Linked DNA regions of Homo sapiens: all the other regions are linked to region 1. Evidence: fine-mapped expression QTL. A gene starts in region 1. Each other region holds a variant in brackets. All regions are shown on one strand. Distances are from middle to middle.

Region 1 (4,245 bases):
ACCAGAAATATGCTGTAGGAACTTAACTCTTGTTTATATCAATTAGCCTGTGGTAAAATTGGTTTCCTTATACCTCGTTGTGCTTAAAGGTTCACAGTTTCCAAGAACGTATCAAGAATGTTAAGTGAGGACTTACTGTATTTATTTAAAGAGAATGCTTCCTATCTATTGGCTAGGGAAAAAAAAAAAGTCAAGAAAATTTAACAGCAACTCTATTCTTTTACATTCATACATTACCAAAGCTCTCTTTTGGCTATTTTTAATTCATAAAGATTTTGGCTGAATTATTTTCATTATTTCGAAACAAAAATTAAGTTCTTGCCTCGGCATTTTGCATTACAAATGCAAATGCATTACAAATGGTTAATACAAATAAATCAGAGTACTTAGGTAATATGTTTACATTTCCCTTTTTCAAATTACAGAGGAATTCACCTTTCTCTGTGACTCCTACGTCTATAACTGAACTGACACCTCCAGTTTTCCTCATCTGAATTAAAAATAATACTAAAAAAAGCACAAAATAAAAGTTTAGATTTGGCATAACTTTAGTAGTCTCTACAATTGTGGTCTTCTTATAATAAATTGAAGCATTTGGAAAGTGAGCATGTATTTCAGGAATAAAGAAATAAATACCAACATTTACTTCCAAAATTCTTGTGTGTGGGGGGGAACATTGTCTACAATTTATTTTTTCTGTTACTATCAAAAACATCATTCAACTTTTCAATTCAAGCAGTGGAAAAAATACTAACATTTCACCGACAAACAAAAATGTTTTGATGAACAAACCAGCAATAAAAGTGCACATGAGTATGTATATCATATTTTTCCTCCTTGTATTTAATTAACAAATGACCTTAAGATGATAACTCTCAAAATTTCAGGTTTATCCTCCCGATTAATTTGTGACATTCCTTGGAGGGAATTCAAAGGGAAGAAGAGAAAGATTTTAAGCTTCAGGTTATGGTAAGGAACAGAGACAAAATGCATTTAGCAAATAATAGGAAAGATCACATAAATAGTTCTGAATGAAGTTTAAAGAAAACGATTCCTTACTTCTAAAAAAATGCAATTCGTGAGGTTGGGAAAAGACACTCAAATTTCCCCGACTCCACCCTACTAGTCAACAATCAGTGCAGCAATCAAAAAATGCCCTTTCCTGAATGCCCAGAAGAATCTTAAGAAACTCACCTTCTGAACTCAGGGCGTCTCGATTCTACTTTTGTTGGGTATTGGCCTGCCTACTGGCTGCCCTCTTTCCTATTTCTCGGCCAGGCGCTCTGGGAAGTAGATACCGTACCTGTGGTCACTGCTGGCGACACTGAAGCTCGCCCCATGCGTTGCTGCTGGCCCTGAGCATCACTCGCCGTCCCACTTGTTCCTCCTCGTCGTCATCGCAGGTCTTACACACACACACACACACACACACACACACACACACACACACACACACGTTCACACCCTCGCGCGCGCACCTGCTGTTAAGAGGTACAGCCCCACCCCAGCAAAATCCTCGCTTCCTCTTCCCCGGGACGTAGCCCCAGAGGAGCGAATCTGGACCAAGCCCAAGACAGGCTGAAGCTACTGCTGCGCTCTCACCTCCGGCAGTGACAGCGAGCGCCGCCGCCGCTCTGCGCGGGGCCAGCCAGGCCCGCCGAGGGCAGCACAGGTGGAGCAAGGTTGCACCCCCGGGGGATCCCCGCCCACCGCCCGCGGCAGCTTCTGCAGGCTCGGGGAAAGCGCGCGCCAGTGATTCAGCGCCTTTCCGCCGCCGCGGTTACCACGGCGACGCGCGCGCACGCGCACACACGCCCTCAGGGATGTGGGGCGCGGCAGCCGCCCCTGCCCAGCTCCCCTGCTCAGCTCCCCTGCTCAGCTCCCCGGTTGCGCTCTAAGTACCCGCACCGGGGCGACACACTCCCACCCCGCAGGGGACCAAGCAAAAGTCTTTCGTGAACCTGAGCGGCCTTCATACCCTACCTGCTTTCCTTCACCAAGCCCTTCCCTGTCACCGTGGCCCTAAACAGTCTGGGGGATGAACACTCCTTCCAAATAAACACCCGGGCCAGGGTGGCTCAAGGGAGCCGTGGGTGCACTGCCTGGGTCAAACACCCTTCGCGAATGTGTCCCCCAGCTTGTCCCCAGCTTGTGTCACCCCAGCTACACAAGTTCCATTCTTCCAGTGGGAGTCTCTTTGGCCCCTACTCTGTAATTATCTTTCTATTTTGAGCAGGTGCTTTCTGACTGAGACTGGGAACCTGTGCTAGGAGGGGCTCCCATCACCTCCAGGCCTTGCAGGTTAACTGGATGCCCAGTATAGTTTGACATTTGCATCTTGAGGAACGTGATAATCTAAACCACAGAAAACTTGGGTGGAAGACTCTTGCATTTTTACTGTTTTAATAAAGATGCGAAAGCATCTAGGGATAATATCATGAGCAGAAAAGGTAGCCAGGGCATTCCTCGCACATCTCATTACTAGGAGGTATAAGTGCAGTGCTTAGGGCTGAGTCACACACTGTTGATGAATAAGCTTCTTGGCTACTCGTATTTACCGAAGAGCCTCAGACAAGTTACCTAATCTAGATAAACCTGTTTCCTCAATTATAAAATGAAGATAATAGCATTCATATAGGATGATTCTGGGAATCAAATAAGATAATGCACATTTAAAGAGTAAAAACCAGCTGGGTGCGGTGGCTCACGCCTGTAATCCTAGCACTTTGGCAGGCCGAGGCGGGCGGATCACGAGGTCAGGAGATCGAGACCATTCTGGCTAACACGGTGAAACCCCCGTCTCTACTAAAAATACAAAAAATTAACCGGGAGTGGTGGCCCGCGCCTGTAGTTCCAGCTACTTGAGAGGCTGAGGCAGGAGAATCGCTTGAATCCAGGAGGCGGAGGTTGCAGTGAGCCGAGATCGTGCCACTGCACTCCAGCCTGGGCGACAGAGCAAGACTCCGTCTCAAAATAAATAAATAAATAAATAAATAAATAAATAAATAAATAAATAAATAAATAAAAACTAAAGAGTAAAAACCTGTCCAGGACTCAAAGAGTGAAAATCAGCTTGGACTTGGAAAAGTTAGTACTGCCAATGATCAATGATCAGGCTGAGAGGACAAAGTCAGAAGCAAAATTAACAGGCAATGTTGTTTCCTCTGAAGTCACGCAGCAGGTACAAAACAACACAACTCCTTGTGTTCCATTTTTGAATGACTACTACTTTCTACCTTTGCTTTACTATTCCCATCCATAACTGGGGATACCCAATTGCTAAACTCCCTTCACCTCCTGACAGCACCCAATCCCTCATTAATCCCCCTTTCTCTCAATCTGCCTCAGAAACAGCAACCAACTGGATCCCAGCTCTGATTCCAAGACTCTCCCTGGAATCCTTTAATAGGAAGCCAAATCTTTACAAAAGACACTTCCTCCTTTCTGTGCTCACATGGCATTCCACAGGTACTCTTTCAATGCATCAAGCCAATGAATCTGATTTTGTCCCCAACGATCCTTGGCTGATTAGCCTTTAAAGAAACATATTTTTAGCACATACACACACACACAGGCTTAGCCCAGAATGTTTAACTATACCATCTTTTTAACTCAGAGACACTGTAATGAATATCTATTTTCATTTTTAATGAATATATCTATTTTGGTATTGTATGAAAATGTTAGTCTCCTTCTTTAGGACACAGATGTGAGGCTACTACCTTTCACTTCTTTTCAGCATTCAGTGGACATCCATTGAGCTCCTACTATATGCCAGACACTGCAAGAGGTAGTAAGGATAAAATGATGTATCCTTAGTATAATTAACTTTGTCTGCTCTTGCTTATGCTTTTGGTTGGGACATTTGTACAATAAAAGATAACTTATTTTGAGGGTGGGTAAAACTGAGGTTTAGGAAGGTTAAAGTACATTCCACATCAGTGGTAAAAATGGTGCTTAGCGTAATGACAGTGCTGCCTCATTGAAATACAAGACTTTAGGCCACGTACAGTGGCTCATGCCTATAATCCCAGCACTTTGTGGGCGAGGCAGGAGGATTGAGTGAGCCCCGGAGTTCGAGGCCAGCCTGGGCAACATAGCAAGATCCTCTCTGTACAAAAAACAAAAACAAATAAAAAGTAGCTGGGTGTGTGGTGCACACCTGTAATCCCAGCTACCCAAGAGTCTGAGGCTAGAGGATCACTTGTGCCCAGGAGGTTGAGACTGAAAAAAAAAAAAAAAAAA
Region 2 (4,245 bases), 54 kb before region 1:
AAGTTGAAATAAAGAATGAAGGTAGACAGTGGTCAGAGAAATTAAGGCACCTTGGGCCAAGGTCACTAAGCCAGAAATGGCTGAAGGGGAAGAAACCTCTCATCCTGCTCTTCTCTAAAACATTCACTTTTCCACCATGCTGCCTCTCCAGGCTGGAATCACATGCCAATTCTTCCCTTCACTATTCAGTAATCCACCCACAACCTCCACCACAGAACTACTCACTAAGTCATCAGGACACAAGGTCCTCTCTGACAAACCCCTCCAAAGAAAAATCAATCCTCTATGGAAGCCACTGAGCACCAGCATCACCCATTTCAGCCTTCAAGTTAACCTGGGCCTCGTCAGCAAAAGTTTCAAATGGCTCTTGTTTCTATGTTCTCTACTCATTTACTTTAAAACAACTTGTTTTAGGTGATTTCTCTAGTCTTGTCCACAGGAAAACACAGTTGCAAAAAATGTCCTTTATCCTCTACAAGTTTGATCTTGATTTATTTTTCCTAGATACCCTGTTCAATGGCACTATTTTATGCATAGTACTGTTATGAACATTCATGTACAAGTTTCTATATGGACATGTTTTCTTTCTCTTGTGTAAATACCCAGAAGTGGAATTCCTGGGTCATATGGTTAAGTCTGCATTTAACATTTTGAGGAAATGCAAGACTGTCTTCCGAAGCAGCTACACTGGGGCCAGGCATAATTGCTCACACCTGTAATCCCAGCATTTTAGGAGGCCAAAGCAGGAGGATTCTTTAAGCCCAGGAGTTTGAGACCAGGCTGGGCAACAGAGTGAGACTCTATCTCTACAAAAATAAAAATAAAAAAAATTAGCTGGGCACTGTGGTCCCAGCTACTCAAGAGGCTGAGGTGAGAGAATCACTGGAGCCCAGGAGTTTAAGGATGCAGTAAGCCATGCTGCACCGTGGCATTTTGACCTGGGTGTGGAACAAGACCCTGTCTCTCAAAAAACGAAAATCAAAAACAAACCAAAGTGGCTGCAACATCTCACATTCCCACCAGCAGTGTATGAGAGTTCCAATTTCTCTGCATCCTTACTAACACTTATTATCTATTTTTAGATTTTATTCTAGCCATCTAGTAGATGTGAAGTGGTATCTCATTGTGGTTTTGACTTGCATTTCCCTAAAGATTAATGGTGCTGAGCATCTTTTCATGTGCTTCTTGGCTATTCTTCTATGATCTTTGGAGAAAGTCTATTCAGATCCTTTGCCCATGTTTGAGTTGGGTTATTTGTCTTTTAATTATTAAGTTGTAAGAGTTATTTATATATTCAGTATACAATATTTATGGTATATTTATCCCATTTTATGGTATATTTATTCCATCAAGAAAGCTTTACTCTTTTGATGTTGTCATCTGAAATACAAAAGTTTCTACTTTTTATTAATTCAAATTTACCATTTTTCTATTTTATTGCTATGCTTTTGATGTACTAAGAAATAATTGCCTAAGTTTACAAAGATTTATGCTGAGTTTTCTTCCATGTCTCTTATAGTTTTAACTCATATATTGAGAACGTTGGTCCATTTTGAGTTAATTTTTTTAAAATAAGGTATGAGATAGGGGTCTAAATTCATTCTTTTGCATGTAAATATCCAGTTGTCCTAACACCATTTGTTGAAAATACTATTCTTTCCCCATTAAATTTTCTAGATACCTTTACCAAATACAATTGAACTATTTTACATATTTTTTTGGTGAGAGAAAAGATCTTAGTTTCTGTCATCAATTCCAAACTTTGCACTGCATCAGAATGAAATAGTTTCTTTTCTTTCTTTCTTTTTGTTTTAAGAGATGGGGTCTCACTCTGTTGCCCAGGCTGGTCTCTCACCCGTAGCCTCAAGCAGTTCTCCTACCTCCATCTCCCAAGTAGCTGGGATTACAGTTGTGCATCAGTGTATTGGGCTTGAGCAAATGACTTCTTATTATGCTATGCATGTAATTTTTGTGAACACTTATTCAGAGATTGTCTACAAATCTAATGTACTTCAGAGGAAAATTTGCATTTCAATGGAAAGCAGCATGTTATCGGTGGGGCAAGGTGGCTCACATATGTAATCCTAGCATTTTGGGAGGCCAAGGCAGGCAGATCACTTGAGCTCAGGAGTTTGAGACCAACCTGGGCAACATAGCGAAATCCCATCTCTACCAAAAACATAAAAATTAGCCGGGTGTGGTGGCACATGCCTGTAGTCCCAGCTACCTTGTGGGGCTGAGTTGGGAGGACTGCCTGAGCCCAGGAGGTCAAGGCTGCAGTGAGCTGAGATCACGCTGCTCCACTCCAGCCTC[G/A]GTGACAAAGTGAGACCCTGTCTCAAAAAATTAAAATAAGATAAAAATAAATAAAAAAAAACATTATCTACTGGATACCTCTCCAGGTTATCTGCCTCTAGTCATTCTTGTATTTGAGCTATTTTTACAACTCTGTAAGTTATAGGTCATAAAAATGATAAAAATGTAAAATAATTCTTGTCTATAGACATGTAAATTCTCCTGTCTGCTAGAGCTTCAACTGAACTCCCTCCTTTCCTCACTGGAAACCCAGTTTTGCCTCTGTTTGCACACTCATTTCAATATATTTTTTAACCTATGAATGTGCCTGTTCTTCAGGTTTTCTTGTAGGATAATTATAATCTAGTTCCTTCAGTGAGTAATGAGTAGAATAAAATCTCTAACACGTGTTCATTTTATATCTAAACAATTCACAATTTCACCTATTTGAATAATTATCTTTTTTTTTTTTTTTTTTTTTTTTGAGATAGAGTCTCGCCCTGTCACCCAGGCTGGAGTGCAGTGGTGCGATCTCGGCTCATTGCAAGCTGCACCTCCCGGGTTCACGCCATTCTCCTGCCTCAGCCTCCCGAGTAGCTGGGAAGCTGGGACTACAGGCACATACCGCCACGCCTGGCTAATTTTTTGTATTTTTTAGTAGAGATGGGGTTTCACCATGTTAGCCAGGATGGTCTCAATTTCCTGACCTCGTGATCCACCCACCTCGGCCTCCCAAAGTGCTGGGATTACAGGCATGAGACACTGCTCCCGGCCCTGAATAATTATCTTTTAACAAAACCAACCTCAAAGAACTAATGAGCCAAAAGATTTTTAATAGAGCTTGATTTCAGAGAGTTCCATCTGTATAAACCAGGAAGTAAATGACTTGGCAACATGAAAGAGAGTAAATTATTTTAATATTTACTGATATGAATAAAGAACATGGTTAATCTCTAATACTTTCAGATTATTTTTAATTGAAAGTTTTTTCAGGCCAGGTGCAGTGGCTCATGCCTGTAATCCCAGCACTTTGGGAGGCCGAGGCAGGTGGATCATGAGGTCAGGAATTCAAAACCAGTCTGACCAATATGGTGAAACCCCATCTCTACTAAAAATACAAAAATTAGCTGGGCGTGGTGGCAGATGCCTGTAATCTCAGCTACTCAGGAGTCTGAGGCAGGAGAATCACTTGAACCTGGGCAGCGGAGGTTGCAGTAAGCCAAGACCATGCCACTGCACTCCAGCCTGGGTGACAGAGTGAGACTCTGTCTCAAAAAAAAAAAAAAAAAAAAAAAAAAAAAAAAAAAAAAAAAAAAAGAAAGTTTTTTCATTTTAATCCAATTATAAGTAAGGAAAAATATAGACACTTCAAAATTCAGAAAAATATAAGCAGAAAAAAACCTTCTGATTCAATCTTGGCTGGGCACGGTGGCTCATGCCTGTAATCCCAACACTTTGGGAGGCCGAGGTGGGGGTATCATTTGAGGTCAGGAGTTCGAAGCCAGCCTGGCCAACATAGTGAAAACCCATCTCTACTAAAAAATACAAAAATTAGCCGGGCATGGTGGTGCACACCTATAGTCCCAGCTACTTGGAAGGCTGAGGCAGGAGAATCGCTTGAACCCAGGAGGCAGAGGTTGCAGTAAGCCGAGATCATGCCACTGTACTCCAGCCTGGGCGACAGAGCAAGACTCTGTCTCACAAAAAAAAAACAACAAAAAAAAAAAACACTTAAAAATGACTTCTAGACATTTTTAAACAATTTTTCATGGTTGAGATTATAATGTATAGTCAATTCAATTCAGCATTCCTCACTTATTCTAACATAAGTACTGGAATCTAAAGAAGGAAAACTTTTCCTTTAAAAAATTCTTGAAGTACTCCAAGCTTTTTTTTTACTTTATTTCCACCTATACTCAGCTTCCTCTGATCAACATGCTCACCACATTCTCA
Region 3 (4,245 bases), 110 kb before region 1:
CAGAAATAAAGATCAGAAGCAAATGTGAGCAAATCTGTTTTACTGTTAACTTCAATTATGAACTTGAAATTGTGCCACATGACTTTTTCCTCTAAAAACTGGATCCTAGTGTTTTAATTACCTGTGTGCAGCTATTTTAAATAGCATTTTACTTGAATAATATGTATGTTGTCATTGTTTCATGCTATACTTTGTGGGATAAAACTTGGGAATGAGTGTGGTAAGAAATTTATAAAGTTTTGCTTTTAAAACGTGGACATAACTCATTTTTCTAGTTTTTGACAATTGTGTGTTTTAGTGTCTAGTCTGCAGAGAGCTGTGTGATTAATAAACGTGGAATTAACAGAATTTCCTCTCCCTGTATTAAGGTGTCTGGTTGTGCTTTTTTCCCCCTACTTGGTGATCTTTTGAGTTTTTATTGGATGATATTAGACCAGTTTGCATTTGTGTAAATAGCACTCCCTCCCCCAGAGAGCCGTAATCAGTGAGTGCCTTGGGGAAGGAGCCAGCATGTGAAATGATGTGCCCTAAAACCCAGAGAAGGGCCTGTCCATGGTGTGCGCTTATAGAATGTTTGCTAAGCTGAACTGAGAATTTACCTGGTTTGCAGAGGTGGCGGTCACAGAAAGGTGTATAGGCCAGCCGTCACAGATTGGCCTATCTCTCTCTCCTACACGCCCCACTGTTATGACTTCCTGGGCTCAAACAAGCCTCTCACCTCTGCCTCCTGAGTAGCTGGGACCACAGGCACCTGCTACCACACTCAGTTAATTTTTCTTTCATTTTTTGAACAGTCAGGGTCTCACTGTGTTGCCCAGACTGGTCTCAAACTCCTGGGTTCAAGCCACCCTCCCGCCTCAGCCTCCCAAAGTGCTGGGATTATGGGAGTGCACCATTGTAGCCAGCCCTCACCATAATTTAGAACACAGACAGCACTGCTGCCCAGTGGTTAGTGGACATTTTTGCAAATGTCGTCTCACATTTTACAATCACGTATTGCTCGACAACAGAGATATATTCTGAGAAATGCGTCATTAGGCAGTTTCGTCCTTGTACGAACACTGTAGAGTACTTACACAAACCTGGATGGTACAGCCTCCTACACAGCTAGGCTATACGGTCTAGCCTATTGCTCCTAGGGCTACAAACCTGCACAGCATGCTACTGTACTAAATACTGTAGGCAGTTGTAAGACAATGGCAAGTATTTATGTATATAAACATAGAAAAGGTACAGTAAAAATCAAGTATAAAAGATTTAAAAATTACACTTGTAAAAGGCACTTACCGTGAATGGAGCTTGCAGAACTGGAAGTTGCTCTGGGTGAGTCAGTGAGTGACAGTGAATGTGAAGGCCTAAGGTATGACTGCACACTACTCTAGACTTTACAAACACTCTACACTTAGGCTACACTACATTTATTAAATAATATTTTTCTTTCTTCAATAATAAATTACCCTTAGCTTACTGTAACTTTTTACTTTATAAATTTTTAAAATTTTTTAACTTTTTGACTCTTTTGTGATCACACTTAGCACTTAAAGCACAAACTAATTGCACAACTGTATAAAAATATATTCTTTTTTTATATCCTTGTTCCACAAGCTTTTTTATATTTTAAATTTTTTTAAACTTTTTTGTTAAAAACTAAGACACAATTACACACATTAGCCTAGGCCTACAAAGGGTCAGATTCATGGATATTTCTATCTCCCACCTCCTCATCTTGCCCCGCTGGAAGGTCTTCAGGGGCAATAACACGCAGGGACAGCTGGGCCCAGTGGCTCACGCCTGTAATCCTAGCACTTCAGGAGTCCAGGGCAGGCGGATCGCTTGAGCCCAGGAATTTAAGACCAGCCTGGGCAACACGGCGAAACCCTGTCTCTACAAAAAATACAAAAATTAGCCAGGTGTGGTGGCACGTGCCTGTCGTCCCAGCTACTCAGGAGGCTGAGGCAGGAGGATCGCTTGAACCCGGGAAGTCAAGGCTGCAGTGAGCCGTGACCGCACCACTGTACTCCAGCCTGGGTGACAAGGTGAGACCCTGACTCAAAAAAGAAAAAAAC[G/A]TGGAGCTAGGATAACAAGACCTACCTGAGGTTCTTAGGAGATGTCATGCATCAGAAATATGTCCATGGTGGTTTGCTTGCTTTCCTTTTTCATCATAGATTTGCTTGTAAGCAGACAGTGCATAAAGAACATTCCTCTCTGTTAATGAAACCCTTTTGGTGTTGAGGGGCCCATGTTTTCAGAATTTTTAAGGCGCTTACTGAGGTCTGCAAAAACTTCTCAGCTCTTCACTGTGAATTTTCATGGGGATTCTTTTTCTTCTGCAGTTTTTTCTTCCTTGCCTCTTCTTGAGGTATGTGTTCCTGTTCCAGTTCCAACAACTCCTCATTAGTCAGTTCCTCAGGAACCACCTGTAGGAGCTCCTCAATGTCTTCTTCTTCCACCCCCAGGTTAAAATTGTTTGCCATCTCAACCACAGCCTTGTTGGTTTTTGCAACCTCCTTGTCCTTGGCAAATCCTTTGAAATCACGGATGAACCTCTTGAGTGTCTTCTTCCAGATGTCATTTATACGTTCCTTGGTAACATCACCCCAAGCCCAAGCAAGGGTCCTGATGGAGTCGTAGATGTAATCCTTTCAGAATTGCATCAGCGTCTTCTCCGTGTCTTCCTTTGTTGCAGTAATAACCTGAGCAAAGCTGCTCCTCCTCAGGCAGTGGGCCTTAAAAGCTGCTGTAACTCCTTTACCCATTGGTTGGTAATCCTTAATCTCTTGTTTCAAGATCAGTCACTTGATGTGGCCTCTTACTGGCAACAATAGCCGTGGATTTTCTATGACAAAGGGACCGTGATGAACAAAGCAACACGAGATTAATTGAAGCACAAGAGAAAATAATGCAATCAAGAGGCACAGTAAACAAGACACGTTTATACTGCTGGTATAACCCAGTATTTCTTTTGTTTTGTTTTGTTTTGTTTTTGAGACAGGGTCTCACTCTGTAATTTAGGCTGGAGTGCACCGGCACCATCACAGCTCACTGCAGCCTTGACCTCCTGGGCTCAAGAGATCCTCCTACCCCAGCCTCCTGAGTAGCTGAGACTACAGGCATTCGCCACCACACCCAGCTAACTTTTAAACATGTTTTTTATAGAGATGGAGTCTCACCATGTTGTCCAGGCTGGTCTCAAACTCCTGGGCTCAAGCAATCCTCCAGCCTCAGCCTCCCAAAGTGCTGGGGTTACAGGAGTGGGCTACTGCACCCAGCCACATACTGTTTTACAATAAACTGTTTTTAATAAGTAGAAGGAGTACACTGTAAAATAACAATGAAAAGTACAGTATAATAAATACGTAAACCAGTAGCATAGTCACTTATTATATACTGTACATAATTGTATGTGCTATACTCTTATACAACTGAGAATGCAGGTTTGTTTACACCAGCATCACCACAAACATGATTAATGCATTGGGCTGCATTGGACTTTATGATGGCTACGACATCACTAGGTGACAGGAACTTTTCAGCTCCATTATCTCATGGGTCCATAAATCATATATGCAGTCCATCACTGACAGAAATTTCACTATGCCAGGCATGACCGTATAAGCCTATGTGCTCTCTTCCTGCTGCAATAAAGTCTCAGTCCTGCAACTCTGGGTTCATCATCTTTAGGAGAATGGAGGTGATAATACTCTCCATGTAGGCTTCAAATAAAGGAAGCTTTGCTGCTTGCTAATCTCAACTCAACAAGAGAGGCTCTAGGGACCAATTAGTTGGAGAAATGGTGACTTTGTTTCTTTTTTTTTTTTTCCTTTCTTAACTTTGTTCCTGATTTTAATGGAAATGCTTATTTTACTGTTGATATGTGGATCTGGCCTTTCCTTCTCAACATCTTTAAACTTTTAATTTTGAAATAATTATAAATTCATAGGAAGTTGCAAAGATAATGCAGAGTCCCGTGTACCCTTCACCCAGTGGTTCGCTTATTACCTATGTAATACAATTATCAAAACCAGGAAACTGATACCAGTGCAAAACTGTTAATCCAGGCCTTATTCCAATTTCACTCGTTTTTATGTGCACTCATTTGTATGTGAGTGTTTGTACACCTCTACCTAATTTGATCACATCAATAGTTAGATTTGTGTAGGCAGCACCTGAATCAAGATACAGAACTGTTTCATCTCTACCTAGGAAATCCCTGGCAGTACCTCTTCATAAATGACTTTGAAAGTA

The links. PIP is the estimated chance that this variant, and not a neighbour inherited with it, causes the effect.
Region 2: its variant is the best candidate, but not a certain one, in a credible set for the expression of KIAA0319 in putamen (GTEx, PIP 0.77).
Region 3: its variant is the best candidate, but not a certain one, in a credible set for the expression of KIAA0319 in cerebral cortex (GTEx, PIP 0.52).

The regions. Positions count from the first base shown.
Region 1 is chr6:24,644,433-24,648,677 of GRCh38, forward strand. It overlaps KIAA0319, which reads right to left and starts at 1,759. Exons shown (of 21, transcript NM_014809.4): 1 at 1,304-1,759. RefSeq lists a silencer at 1,604-1,813.
Region 2 is chr6:24,590,635-24,594,879 of GRCh38, forward strand. All of the region lies in intron 3 of KIAA0319, which reads right to left. Among named protein-coding and RNA genes, the nearest start is that of KIAA0319, 53 kb to the right of the region's middle. The variant G/A (reference allele first, on the strand shown) is at 2,314.
Region 3 is chr6:24,536,845-24,541,089 of GRCh38, forward strand. ALDH5A1 (aldehyde dehydrogenase 5 family member A1) reads left to right here. Exons shown (of 10, transcript NM_001080.3): 10 at 1-363. It overlaps LOC124901277 (a long non-coding RNA gene), which reads right to left and starts at 3,208. Exons shown (of 2, transcript XR_007059507.1): 1 at 3,171-3,208; 2 at 1-2,836. It also overlaps a transcript of KIAA0319 not described here. RefSeq lists an enhancer at 1,723-2,922. The variant G/A (reference allele first, on the strand shown) is at 2,067.